Linked DNA regions of Homo sapiens. The protein of the gene in region 2 interacts with the protein of the main gene of each other region in a pairwise test. Each region holds a gene or a part of one and is shown on either strand. Other genes may lie near its edges. The genes, in order: IL13RA2 and TMEM219.

Region 1 (4,424 bases), on a different chromosome or scaffold from region 2:
CCTCAGCCTTCTGTGTAGCTGGGATTACAGGTACGCGCCACCATGCCTGGCTAATTTTTTGTATTTTTAGTAGAAATGGGGTTTCACCATGTTAGCCAGGCTGGTCTCGATCTCCTGACCTCAGGTGATCCACCTGCCTTGGCCTCCCAAAGTGCTGGGATTACAGGCATGAGCCACTGCGCCCAGCCTAAAGCCAAACAGTTTTATTCATACTGTATACTTTCATCCCAAGTGCAGTTTAAAACAAACAACAACAAAAACTAGAATCTCATTTTCCAAGATCTGACAATATCTCTGTGGCTTAGTGCAATCTGTGAAGTCACATTGTTTTATTAATACATCATAAATATAAAACCTGACTCATACCTTGATTGGAGAACTACGTGCAGCACTCTCACTATGAATTTATGAGAAAAGAAACTGTTAATAGAATCCAGAAAATGTACTACTAGCTGAGGCTTTGAGTACTCAAAAGCCTATTTAAATACAACAATATTTAAAAATAAGACGTATTCAACATTCGCAAGAAAAATTCAGTTTATTGAGACTCATATTGAACATTTGGCCATGACTGGAAACTGTTGAGTCAATACCATGTCTCTTGATATGGAAAGTCTTCATGTATCACAGAAAAATTCTGGAATCTAGAAAGAACTCTGTTATTAACAAGTCATCTCTAATAACACAAACTATTTCACTGAAGATTAACAACTCAGAGAATAAGCACAAGAGCATTCAGCAAACAAAGTGAAGCATTCTATACACATTCACTTTTCTCTCTATCTTGAAAAGATATGGCATTGAGATATCTTTTCTCAGCTGGGCACAGTTGCTGGCACCTGTAATCCCAGCACTTTGGGAGGCCAAAGTGGGAGGAATTGCTTGAGCCCAGGAGTTTGAGACCAGCCTGGGCAACATAGCGGGACTCCATCTCTATAAAAAATCTAAACATTAGCCATTGTGTCTGGCTAATGTTTAAATTTTTTATAGAGATGGAGTCCCGCTATGTTGGTGCCTGCCTGTAGTCCCAGCTACCCAGGAGGCTGAGGCAGGAGGATTGCTTGAGCCCTAGATACCAAGGCTGCAGTGAACCATGATTGCACCACTCCTCTCCAGCCTGAGTGACAGAATGAGACCCTGTCCCAAAAAGATATTTTTCTCCAGGTTACAACTCCTCCTTAAAGCCCCCCAACCCAGAGTGGTCCTATTGTTTTCTGAAATTCTATAGCATTATCTGCACGACTCAAATGGCAATCATCTAAAATCATCTCAAAGGTTATATTTTTTTGTATGGATCCTGTCTCCCTTAACTTGAGTGTGTGCTCCAAAGGCAGGCACCATGCTTTATCATTTGCATGTGTTCTTGTGCCTGTGGCACACTGGTAATATGTGTTTCAGTCTATGATCATTTTAATTCACTCTTCTATTTCTCCCAATCCTGCTTTTCTCTTGTAACTCTTTCCGTATACCATTCTCTAATCTAGGGCCAAATAGTATTTCATGTTTAAAGTTTGATTTCGACAAAAGTAAATCCACCTCAAAATGAAGTCTTGTAAGCTTAATTTTTAAAAATTGCTGTATTTTCTGAAGATAACATCATAATCCATACGGAATCAATTGTACACCCACAGCGAACAAGCAAAATTATAAAATGTATCTCCATCAGTTCTAAGTGCAGAACATTTTAAAAATCTCCTATTCTCAGGCTAAACATCATAATGTTACACATCTTACCATTTTTGGGTAGGTGTTTGGCTTACGCAAAAGCAGACCGGTTACAAATATAACTAATATTAAGATGAAACCAAATGGTAGCCAGAAACGTAGCAAAGTTTTCTTCGATAGGTCTTCACCTAGGATTAAAAATCACACGGAAAGGGGAAGTGTTAGACATTTGCCACTATTTTTGAAACTGAATTATTTTATAAATACTTCAGAACTGAGTTGAGCTTGGAAACCCCTGTCATATTTGCCAGTGCATAAATACCACAATTGTGTTTGAGTATAGCGTTCCTTTCATTTGTGCAATTTTTATATAGAAAAGTACTTTACTGAACTGTGACATGTCTTATTTTCACTTAGAAAAATAACTTCCCCAAACACAATTCTTATTTCCTGATATGAGTTTGTTTATATTTGACCTTGTGAATTCTCCATTTAAAAATGACAAAATATTAGCCAAGTGATTAAACAAACATGTCCTGTGTGTCTGTCTCTTAACTCTCAGTAAGTCAAACGTGTACTTAGATCATAGGATACTGTACCAAGCAAGAGGTATCCTTCAATAAAAATTCCTGTGTGAGTAATGGAAATCATCTTTTAAGGTTACCTTTTTAAAGTTGTCTCATATTTTAAAGACCAAAGGGAGGGATAAGGTTTTTCTTTTCTTTTTGATTTTGCTTTGTTAGTTTAGGGATGGAGTTTTAATGGTTCTTCTGCATAGCAAGAAATGAGCAATCACTAGGCAAACTTAAAAAGCAGACGAAGTTTGGTCTCCCTAAACTAGTACCTCTCACTTGTTTTGGAGTAATATAAAAGATCTTGAATCTTAGCCACGCATCTACAAAGCTCTCTTGATCCCACCTTTTTCTTTGTCCTATTTCCTCACGATCTTGTTTTCTATTAGAAAATTATCAGTCAAATTCACGTGTTCAGAGAAGATTTACAAGAATATAATCCAGAGAAATTACTGATGTAAGTTATCTGTCATGCAAAATTAACAGTGGGAAGGCAGGAAGCTCCTTTGCTGAAGTTCTACTGGCTTTCCCCATACAGAGTCAATCCTGAAGAGGACATACTTTTATTTCCAAAAATATTATTGTCCTATTTTTCTATAACTTGAAACATCCAATAAGAAATGTCCTAAAGAACTGAGACCACATGCAACTCAAGAAATTCCTTGTTTCTAATTTCAAAGTCATTAAGATTCTATGAAGAGGGCTGGGCACAGTGGCTCATGCCTGTAATCTCAACACTTTGTGAGACCGAGGTGGACGGATCACTTGAGGCCAGGAGTTCAAGACCAGCCTAGCCGACACGGTGAAACTCTGTCTCTACTAAAAATACAGAAATTAGCCAGGCGTGGTGGTGCATGCCCGTAATCCCAGCTACTCAGGAGGCTGAGGCACGAGAATCGCTTGAACCCAAGAGGCAGAGGTGACAGAGAGCCAACATCATGCCACTGCACTCCAGCCTGGGTGATAGAGCAAGACTCTGTACCAAAAAAAGGAAAAGATTTCCCTCAAAGCAAGAGAAATCTTAGGCATCACTATCATTGATAAGATTGCATGTAAAATACAGAAAAGAATATATTTTTTGAGGATATGGCTAAAAACTCACCATAACCACTTTATACAATGCATTGACTAATGACGAGATATAGTTCAGGACATAACTTTAGAGTTTCCTGATTTTTTAAAACAGTAACAAAAATGAAAAACATAAAACTAGTAAGTCTTCTTTCTGATTCCATATAGCTCTTGGTTGAGTTTTCCACTGTCTTGCTATTTTTTCTCCATAATCCTTAGTGATTATATAATCTATTAGGCTTCTCGTTTATTGCCTATCTCTACCCAATTGGAAATAAAATGTAAGTTCACTGAGGGTAGAGATTTCTTTACTGCCATATCTGTAATGCTTGAAAAGAGTCTGATACATAGTAGGTGCTTAATAAATATTTGATGAATGAAAGGGATCAATGATACCACTGTATTCGTAGGGAGATAATAGAGATTCCACTATAGTAGAACAACATGAAAGGAGATGAATGATTGATAGATATGGCAGTATCTGTCTGTATCAGCATCAGTATATTTATTTAGAGCTGCATCTATATCTATGTACCTGAAAGAGCAATGCTGAGTTGATTTCCTTCAATTTTGAACATTTATTAGTAATTTCTACTCTTAAAGCTAATACATTGTGAAGCACAATCACATTTTACCTCATTCTTTAGGCTTTTTAGTTTATATTGCTATGTAATTTAAATGACTTTATCACAAATCACTTTAAATCAGTGTTAGAAGTGAATGGAATGAATATGTATTTTACTATTCATGACCTTTTAATTAGAAAAATATTCCTTTTGAATAGTATTAGACACCCAGAAACAAATGTATGCTGATCTATACTTGCTTTAAGATTTCTGTTCTCTTGAATACTGAAAGCATATGAAAATATTGATTAAAATAAGTTCCTGCCAATCTCTCAAAAGAATGAGCATATTATCTATATTGACAGAAAAACAAGAATTTTGATAATAGAAGTATAACAATATTCCTAGTCCTAACTGAATGAATATTAGACTTTTAATAAATCTTTATTCAATTGAAGTGCTCCCTAACTTATTCTCTCTGTTCATAGACTATATGGGAAAGTCCTTCACTTCTGTAATTACAAAATACACCAAAAGAAAATTAATTTTG
Region 2 (7,897 bases):
GTAGTCCCAGCTACTTGGGAGACTGAGGCAGGAGAATGGTGTGAACCCAGGAGGCGGAGCTTGCAGTGAGCAGAGATCATGCCACCGCACTCCAGCATGGGCAACAGAGCGAGACTCCGTCTCAAAAAAAAATTTTTTTTTGGCCAGTCACGATGTGTCACACCTGTAATCCTAGCACTTAGGGAGGCCAAGGCGGGTGGATCACTTGAGGTCAGGAGTTTGAGACCAGCCTGGCCAACATGGTGAAACCCCGTCTCTACTAAAAATACAAAAATTAGCCAGGGACAGTGGCATGCCTCTGTAATCCCAGCTACTCAGGAGACTGAGGCAGGAGAATCACTTGAACCCAGGAGTTGGAGGTTGCAGCGAGCCGAGATCACACCACTTCACTCCAGTCTGGGCGACAGAGCAAGACTCCATCTCAAAAAAAAAAAGTCTAGATGGGGCCGGGCAGGGTGGCTCACACCTGTAATCCCAGCACTTTGGGAGTCTGAGGCGGGTAGACGGCTTGAGCTCAGGAGTTCGAGACCAGACTGCACAACATGGTGAGACCCCGTCTCTACTAAAAATACAAAAAGAGAGAAAAAAAAATAGCTTGGCATGGTGGTGCACACTTGTGGTCCCAGCTACTTGGGCGGATGAAGTGGGAGGATTGCTTGAGCATGGTGAGGAGGGAGGTTGCACTGAGCCAAGATTGCGCCACTGCCCACCAGCCTGGGTGACAGACCAAGACCCTGTCTCAAAAAAAAAAAGAAACAAAAAAAAGGTGGGGCTCACTGGCTCACACCTGTAATCCCAGCACTTTGGGAAGCTTAAGGTGGATGGATCACTTGAGGTCAGGAGTTCGAGACCAGCCTGGATGACATGGCAAAACCCTGTCTCTACTAAAAATACAAAAAAATTAGCTGGGCCTGGTGACGCACGCCTGTAGTCCCAGCTACTAGGGAGGCTGAGGCAGGACAATTGTTTGAACTCAGGAGGCAGAGGTTGCCGTGAGCTGAGATCGCACCACTGCACTCCAGCCTGGGTAACCAGAGTGAAACTCTGCCTCCAAAAAAAAAAAAGAAGAAGAAGAAAAAAGGTTTAGGCAAACATGCACTTTTCCTGTTGCTTTTTTTTTTTTTTTTGAGATGGAGTTTCGCTCTTGTTGTCCAGGCTGGAGTGCAATGGCGTGATCTCGGCTCACTGCAACCTCCGCCTCCTGGGTTCAAGCGATTCTCCTGCCTCAGCCTCCCAAGTAGCTGAGATTACAGGCATATGCCACCACGCCCGAATAATTTTGTATTTTTAGTAGAGATGGGGTTTCTCCATGTTGGTCAGACTAGTCTTGAACTCCCAACCTCAGGTGATCCTCCCGCCTCGGCCTCCCAAAGTGCTGGGGTTACAGGCATGAGCCACTGCGCCCAGCCTGAACATGCCAGATTGTAGTTCCAGGAGGCCAGAGATCATGAATACTTTGTCCACCACTATATTCCCAGCCCACAGAATACACAGCCTGGCAGCCAACAGATGCTTATTGAATGAACGAGCCTCAACAGGGCTTTCTCATTCCCACATGCCATGCTGTGGTCAGGCTTAAATCATAACCCAACTTCTGCCACCTAATATATGTATGACCTTGGTTAAATTAAACCAGCAGTCCCCAACCTTTTTGGCACTGGGGACCAGTTTCATGGAAGACAATTTTTCCACCAGGGGAGGAATGGTTTCGGGATGATTCAAGCACATTACATTTATTTTGCACTTTATTTCTATTATTATTACATTATAAGGTATAATAAAATAATTATACAACTCATCATAAAGTAGAATCAGTGGGATCCCTGAGTTTGTTTTCCTGCAACTAGATAGTCCCATCTGATGTTGATGGGAGACAGTGAGAGATCATCAGGCATTAGATTCTCATAAGGAGCAACCTAGATCCCTCGCATGCGCAGTTCACAATAGGATTCATGCTCCTATGATAATCTAATGCCGCTACTGATCTGACAGGAAGCAGAGCTGAGGCGGTAATGCAGGCAATGGGGAGTAGCTGTAAATACAGATGAAGCTTCTCTCACCAGCCATTCACTTCCTGCTGTGCGGCTCAGTTCCTAACACGTCACGGACTGGTACTGGCCCCACGGCCCAGGGGTTGGGGACCCCTGACTTAAACTAAGGGCCAGCTTTCCAGAATAACATCCACTTTGAGGGCTTGTTGAGTGGATTAAGTCAAAATGTTGGTATACTTGGCTGGTGCGGTGGTTCACACCTGTAATCCCAGCACTTCGTGAGTCTGAGGCGGGTGGATCACCTGAGGTCAGGAATTTGAGACCAGCCTGGCCAACATGATGAAACCCCATCTCTACTAAAAATACAAAAAATTAGGCCGGGCGCGGTGGCTCACGCCTATAATCCTAGTACTTTGGGAGGCCAAGGCGGGTGGATCATTTGAGGTCAGGAGTTTGAGATCAGCCTGGCCAATATGGTGAAACCCTGTCTCTACTAATAAGTACAAAAATTAGTCAGGTGATAGTGGCGTGTGCCTGTAATCTCAGTTACTCGGGAGGCTGAGGCAGGAGAATCCCTTGAGCCTGAGAGGCAGAGGTTGAGGTGAGCTGAGATTGGGCTGTTGTTGAGTTGTAGGAGTTCTTTATATATTATAGATATTAACCCCTTATAAGATATATGATTTGATATTTCCTCTCATTCTGTTGGTTGCCTTTTCACTGTCCTTTCCTTTTTTTGTTTTTGTTTTTTGTGGGGCAGAGTTTTGATCTTTTGCCCAGGCTGGAGTGAAGTGGTGCAATCTCAGCTCACTGCAACCTCCACTCCCCAGGTTCAAGCGATTCTCCAGCCTTAGCCTCCGGAGTAGCTGGGATTATAGGCGCCCGGCACCATGCCTGGCTAATTTTGTACTTTTAGTAGAGATGGGGTTTCACCATGTTGGCCAGGCTGGTCTCAAACTCCTGACCTCAGGTGATCCACCCGCCTCGGCCTCCCAAAGTGCTAGGATTACAGGCTTGAGCCACCGTGCCCAGCCTGTTGTGTCCTTCGATGCACAGAAAAGACTCTTTTCTCTACTGAACGCCCACAGCACCCTTGTCAAAAATCATTTGACTAGTCAGGGCACAGTGGCTCACGCCTGTAATCCCAGCACTTTGGGAGGCCGAGGCGAGAGGACTGCTTGAGGTCAGGAGTTCGAGACATGCCTGGGCAACATGGCAAATGGCAAAACCCCGTCTCTACACACAATGCAAAAGTTAGCTGGGCATGGTGGGTGGCGTGTGACTACCGGCTGTCTCAACTACCCAGGAGGCTAAGGCGGGAGGATCTCTTGAGCCCAAGACGTCCAGACTGCAGCGAGCTTTGATTGTGCCACTGAACTCCAGCCTGGGCGATGACAGAGCAAGGCTCTGTCAAAAAAAAAAAAAAAAAAAAAAAAAAATCGGCCGGGTGTGGTGGTTCACGCTTGTAATCCCAGCACTTTGGGGGGCCGATGCGGGCAGACCACGAAGTCAAGAGATCAAGACCATCCCGGCCAACATGGTGAAACCTCGTCTCTACTAAAAATACAAAAATTAGCTGGGCGTGGTGGCGTGCGCCTGTAGTCCCAGCTACTCGGAAGGCTGAGGCAGAAGAATAGCTTGAATCCGGGAGGCGGAGGTTGCAGTGAGTCGAGATCGCGCCACTACACTCCAGCCTGGCGACAGACTGAGACCCCGTCTCAAAAAAAAAAAAAATCATTTGTATATGCGAAGGTTTTGTGCCACAAACTTTTGTGGCTGTTGATACAAACGACATGGCCTCTGCCTTAAGGAAGCCACAGTCGAATTAAATAGATTCCGTTTCAAGTAGCATCTGTCCTGTGTGCTTAGTGGGCACTGGGCCCATGTTTTCCCACATTTTACCCTTTAAGCTTCTGATCCAACCGGTGAGATAGATAGGATGATCCTCTTTAGTAGAGGGGTAAGCTTAGTCCCCTGAGAGCGCGGCTATGGCTTATGCGAGGGTACGGACAGTCAGGATTTGAACCCAAAGTTCCTGGCTCCATGTGTCATGCTACCTCCAGTCAGATGTTCTCACCTCCAAAACTTGGGCAGAAGTGAACTGAGATGCTCTCTACTGAGCAACTCTTCAGCTCCAGCATCCTATACATTAAGGAGTCACTAAAAGTCAGGGTCCACGAGAAAGGTGCAGATCGGGGTGCACAGAAGAGCGGAGTCCAAAACACCACTCCCAGCCCCAGTGGACAGAGTCCTCAAGTGGCAGCCCTGCAACTCTGAGCGGATGCCGAGTCCTCACCGGGAACCCGGGCGCGGCTGGTCTGTGCTATTGGCGCGGGTAGGGGACGCACAGCCCAAAAATGCCCGCGACAAGCTTCTGGGGCAGTTCTCGCCAGTCTCTCTGGAGGGAGCCTACGGGTTCTGCGACGTTTCTCGCACTTGCTCCCTGGCCTCGCTCCCGTTTCCACCCCTCCCACGGAGGTTTTCCTTTCTGGTGGCTCCTTCCTTGGGTGTCCCTTTGGTACGCCCCCACCCTGGCGGTGAGCTGCGAGGCTGGCGCCCGCGTGGCCACTGCGCATGCGGACCCGGCCGCGGGGCGGGGCCGCGCGAGGAGGAGGGTCGGGGACGGAAGCGCAGAGCACGGACCCCGCCCCCTCGCGGCCCCGCTCGTGACGTCGCGGGGGGCGCCGGCCTCCGCCCGGCCCCGAGGGGTAAGAGCGAGCGGCTGGCGGATCCGACGCGCGAGACCGGGAGGGGACGAGGGCGTTGCAATCGTTCGGGGCGGGGGCTTTCCGGGGAGGGGGTGCTCAGGTGCACCAGCGGCGGCGGACCCTCAGACTCTGCCCTCCCCTCCCTTTAACCCCCTTCCAGCCGGACGGGAGGCGGGGCAGGGCTGAGCATTTGTGACACCTACATTTCCGTGGCTCCCTTCTTTTCCCCCGACCCCTGTTTATCTCTTCGCCTTCCAGAAGTTCTTTTCCATCAGGCCGTCGCACCTTGCGTGGGAAGGAGCACCCCACTTGGAAGCAGGAGGCGGGGTTCAGATCTTGGCCCTACCCCTCCTGTGTTAAAGTCCGCGAGCCTCAGTTTCCCTCACAGTATTTTTTGCCTCGCCTTACCCGGTTTTGAGGATCTGTACGAGAAAGAGAAAGGAAGTGGACATTTGTTGAATTCCTGCATGGCCAAATACCACGCAGACTGCTTCATCCGCCACGTTTAATCCTTATTACTTGGTGTTCTCAGAACTCCCATTTCATGGATTCTTAAGCTCACAGAGTCAGTGAATAACAGAAAGGGATTCAGATCTAGCCGTTTAGCTGCACAGTGGAGTTCTTCTCCAGAGTCTTCCCTTGTCTGGGCTCTGGCTGGAACTATTCCTCAGCCAAATCCTCGCCCCAGAACAGTGCTTCCTGTTTCTCCAGCTGAGAAGTCTCCCTTTCAGTTTCCTTCTTCCAGCACGGAGTACACTGCTCTGCCTCCACTTAGATTACTTCAGAAATGAAATGCAGCAAATATTTATCCAGCAGTGCAGGGAGTTGAACTTTTGGAGTCGGGAACCTTGGATTCTTGTTCTGGCTCTGCCACTTACTGTGTGGCCTTGGGAAGTCCTTTGTCTTCTCTGAGCTTTCTTTTCTCTTTGCGTAAAAGCGGTGCTCTTGTCCCATTCTCCCTCCCTGTCTTCCAGCAGGCTCTCCCCGGAGGCTCAGCCCCCTCTGCTCCCCATGGGCAACTGCCAGGCAGGGCACAACCTGCACCTGTGTCTGGCCCACCACCCACCTCTGGTCTGTGCCACTTTGATCCTGCTGCTCCTTGGCCTCTCTGGCCTGGGCCTTGGCAGCTTCCTCCTCACCCACAGGACTGGCCTGCGCAGCCCTGACATCCCCCAGGTAAGTTCCCCACCCCCGTACCCGCTCTTCCTTCCAACCTAGACAGGCTTTTGCTGCTAATCTCATCTCACCCGTCTTCTTTTGCTCACAGGACTGGGTCTCTTTTTTGAGATCTTTTGGCCAGCTGACCCTGTGTCCCAGGAATGGGACAGTCACAGGGAAGTGGCGAGGGTCTCACGTCGTGGGCTTGCTGACCACCTTGAACTTCGGAGACGGTCCAGACAGGAACAAGACCCGGACATTCCAGGCCACAGTCCTGGGAAGTCAGATGGGATTGAAAGGTGAGATCAGAGGCTGGGTGTGGTGGCTCACGCCTGTAATCCCAACACTTTGGGAGGCTAAGGTAGGTGGATCATTTGAGGTCAGGAGTTCAAGACCAGCCTGGCCAACATGATGAAACACCATCTCTACTAAAAATACAAAAATTAGCCAGGCATGGTGGCAGGCGCCTCTAATCCCAACTACTCGGGAGGCTGAGGAAGGAGAATCGCTTGAACCCAGGAGATGGAGGTTGCAGTGAACCGAGATCGCACCATTGCACTCCAGCCTGGGTGACAGAGCAAGACTCTGTCTCAAAAAAAAAAAAAAAAAAAATCAGGTGCGGTGGCTCATGCCTGTAATCCCAGCACTTTGGGAGTCCGAGAAGGGCAGATCACGAGGTTAGGAGTTCGAGACCAGCCTGGCCAACATGGTGAAACCCCGTCTCTACTAGAAATACAAAAATTAACCTGGTGGTCTGGTTGCGGTGGCCCACAGCGGTAATCCCAGCAGTTTGGGAGGCCGAGGCGGGCAGATCATGAGGTCAGGAGTTTGAGTCCAGCCTGACCAACATGGTGAAACCCCATCTCTACTAAAAATACAAAAATTAGCCGGGCATGGTTGCACGTGCCTGTAATCCCAGCTACTCAGGAGGCTGAGGCAGGAGAATCACTTGAAGCCAGGAGGCGGAGGTTGCAGTGAGCCGAGATCGTACCACTGCACTCCATCCTGGGCAACAGAGCAAAACTCGGTCTCAAAAAAAAAAATTAGCCAGGCTTGGTGGTGCAAGCCTGTAGTTCCAGCTACTTGGGAGGCTGAGGCAGGAGAATTGCTTGAACCCGGGAGGTGGAGGTTGCAGTGAGCCAAGATCGTGCCACTGTACTCCAGCCTGGGAGACAGAGCAAGACTCCGTCTCAAACAAACAAACAAACAAAAATACAAAAAGTAGCCAGGTGTGGTGGCAGGTGCCTGTAGTCCCAGCTACTTGGGAGGCTGAGGCAGGAGAATCGCTTGAACCTGGGAGGCGGAGGTTGCAATAAGCAGAGATCACACCACTGCACTCTAGCCTGGGCAACAGAGACTCTGTCCCGCCCCGCGCCCCCCCCACCACCCTGCGCCAAAAAAAAAAAAGTAAGGTGAGATCACAGAGGACTGTGGGGTCGGGTATCAGAACACTCAGGGCTGGGCCCTGCCTCTGACCTCACCAATGATGACCTTGGGCACATCCCTGGACTTTAGTCACTTCTGTGATTAGGGCTTTCAGTGAACATGCTGCCGACAGGGTAGGTTTTCTATGAATGCTTTCTTCCTCTGCCAGTTCTGATGTTCTTTGAGTCTATCCTTGGAGGTAGGATGAAATGGGCTAGGTTTGACCTAATGTTTTCTCATCCTTTAGCCACCTCCTCCTAGAGGCCCCTTTTTCCTTAGCATAGTTCTGTATGCCACAAAAGATGCAGAAAAAAATTAGACACCATCAATTTCCAAAGAGCTATAGTCTTCTGGGAAAATGACAAGCGATAGGGAGAATGTGAAAATGTCAGTGGATGCCAATAATCCCTGTGTGACATTTGGCCTTATCTAAAATATGCTAAGATAAAGAGGGATGGAAGAGGGTGGTATTTTCTGACTTCTGAGGTCCTTTACAACACTATCATTCTAAGATTCTCCTGTGAGTATATATGTGTCGGGGGAGTGGGTCTCTGCATGTCCAGATGTACATGTATGTTAACAAAAATAAGGAATGTGTCCGATATATGCAGACTTGGG

What was found.
Region 1: the proteins of TMEM219 (region 2) and IL13RA2 interact in binary tests that used the Homo sapiens proteins (3 or more experiments, as listed by UniProt).

The regions. Positions count from the first base shown.
Region 1 is NC_000023.11:115,003,463-115,007,886, forward strand, and holds the end of IL13RA2 (interleukin-13 receptor subunit alpha-2 precursor), read right to left. Parts: intron 1,854-4,424; coding exon 1,735-1,853; intron 645-1,734; coding exon 618-644; 3' UTR 520-617; downstream 1-519. UniProt on the Homo sapiens protein: Cell surface receptor that plays a role in the regulation of IL-13-mediated responses. Functions as a decoy receptor that inhibits IL-13- and IL-4-mediated signal transduction via the JAK-STAT pathway and thereby modulates immune responses and inflammation.
Region 2 is NC_000016.10:29,957,437-29,965,333, forward strand, and holds the start of TMEM219 (insulin-like growth factor-binding protein 3 receptor isoform 1 precursor), read left to right. Parts: upstream 1-4,642; 5' UTR 4,643-4,696; exon of another isoform or gene 4,697-5,670; 5' UTR 5,671-5,707; coding exon 5,708-5,872; intron 5,873-5,963; coding exon 5,964-6,153; intron 6,154-7,897. UniProt on the Homo sapiens protein: Cell death receptor specific for IGFBP3, may mediate caspase-8-dependent apoptosis upon ligand binding.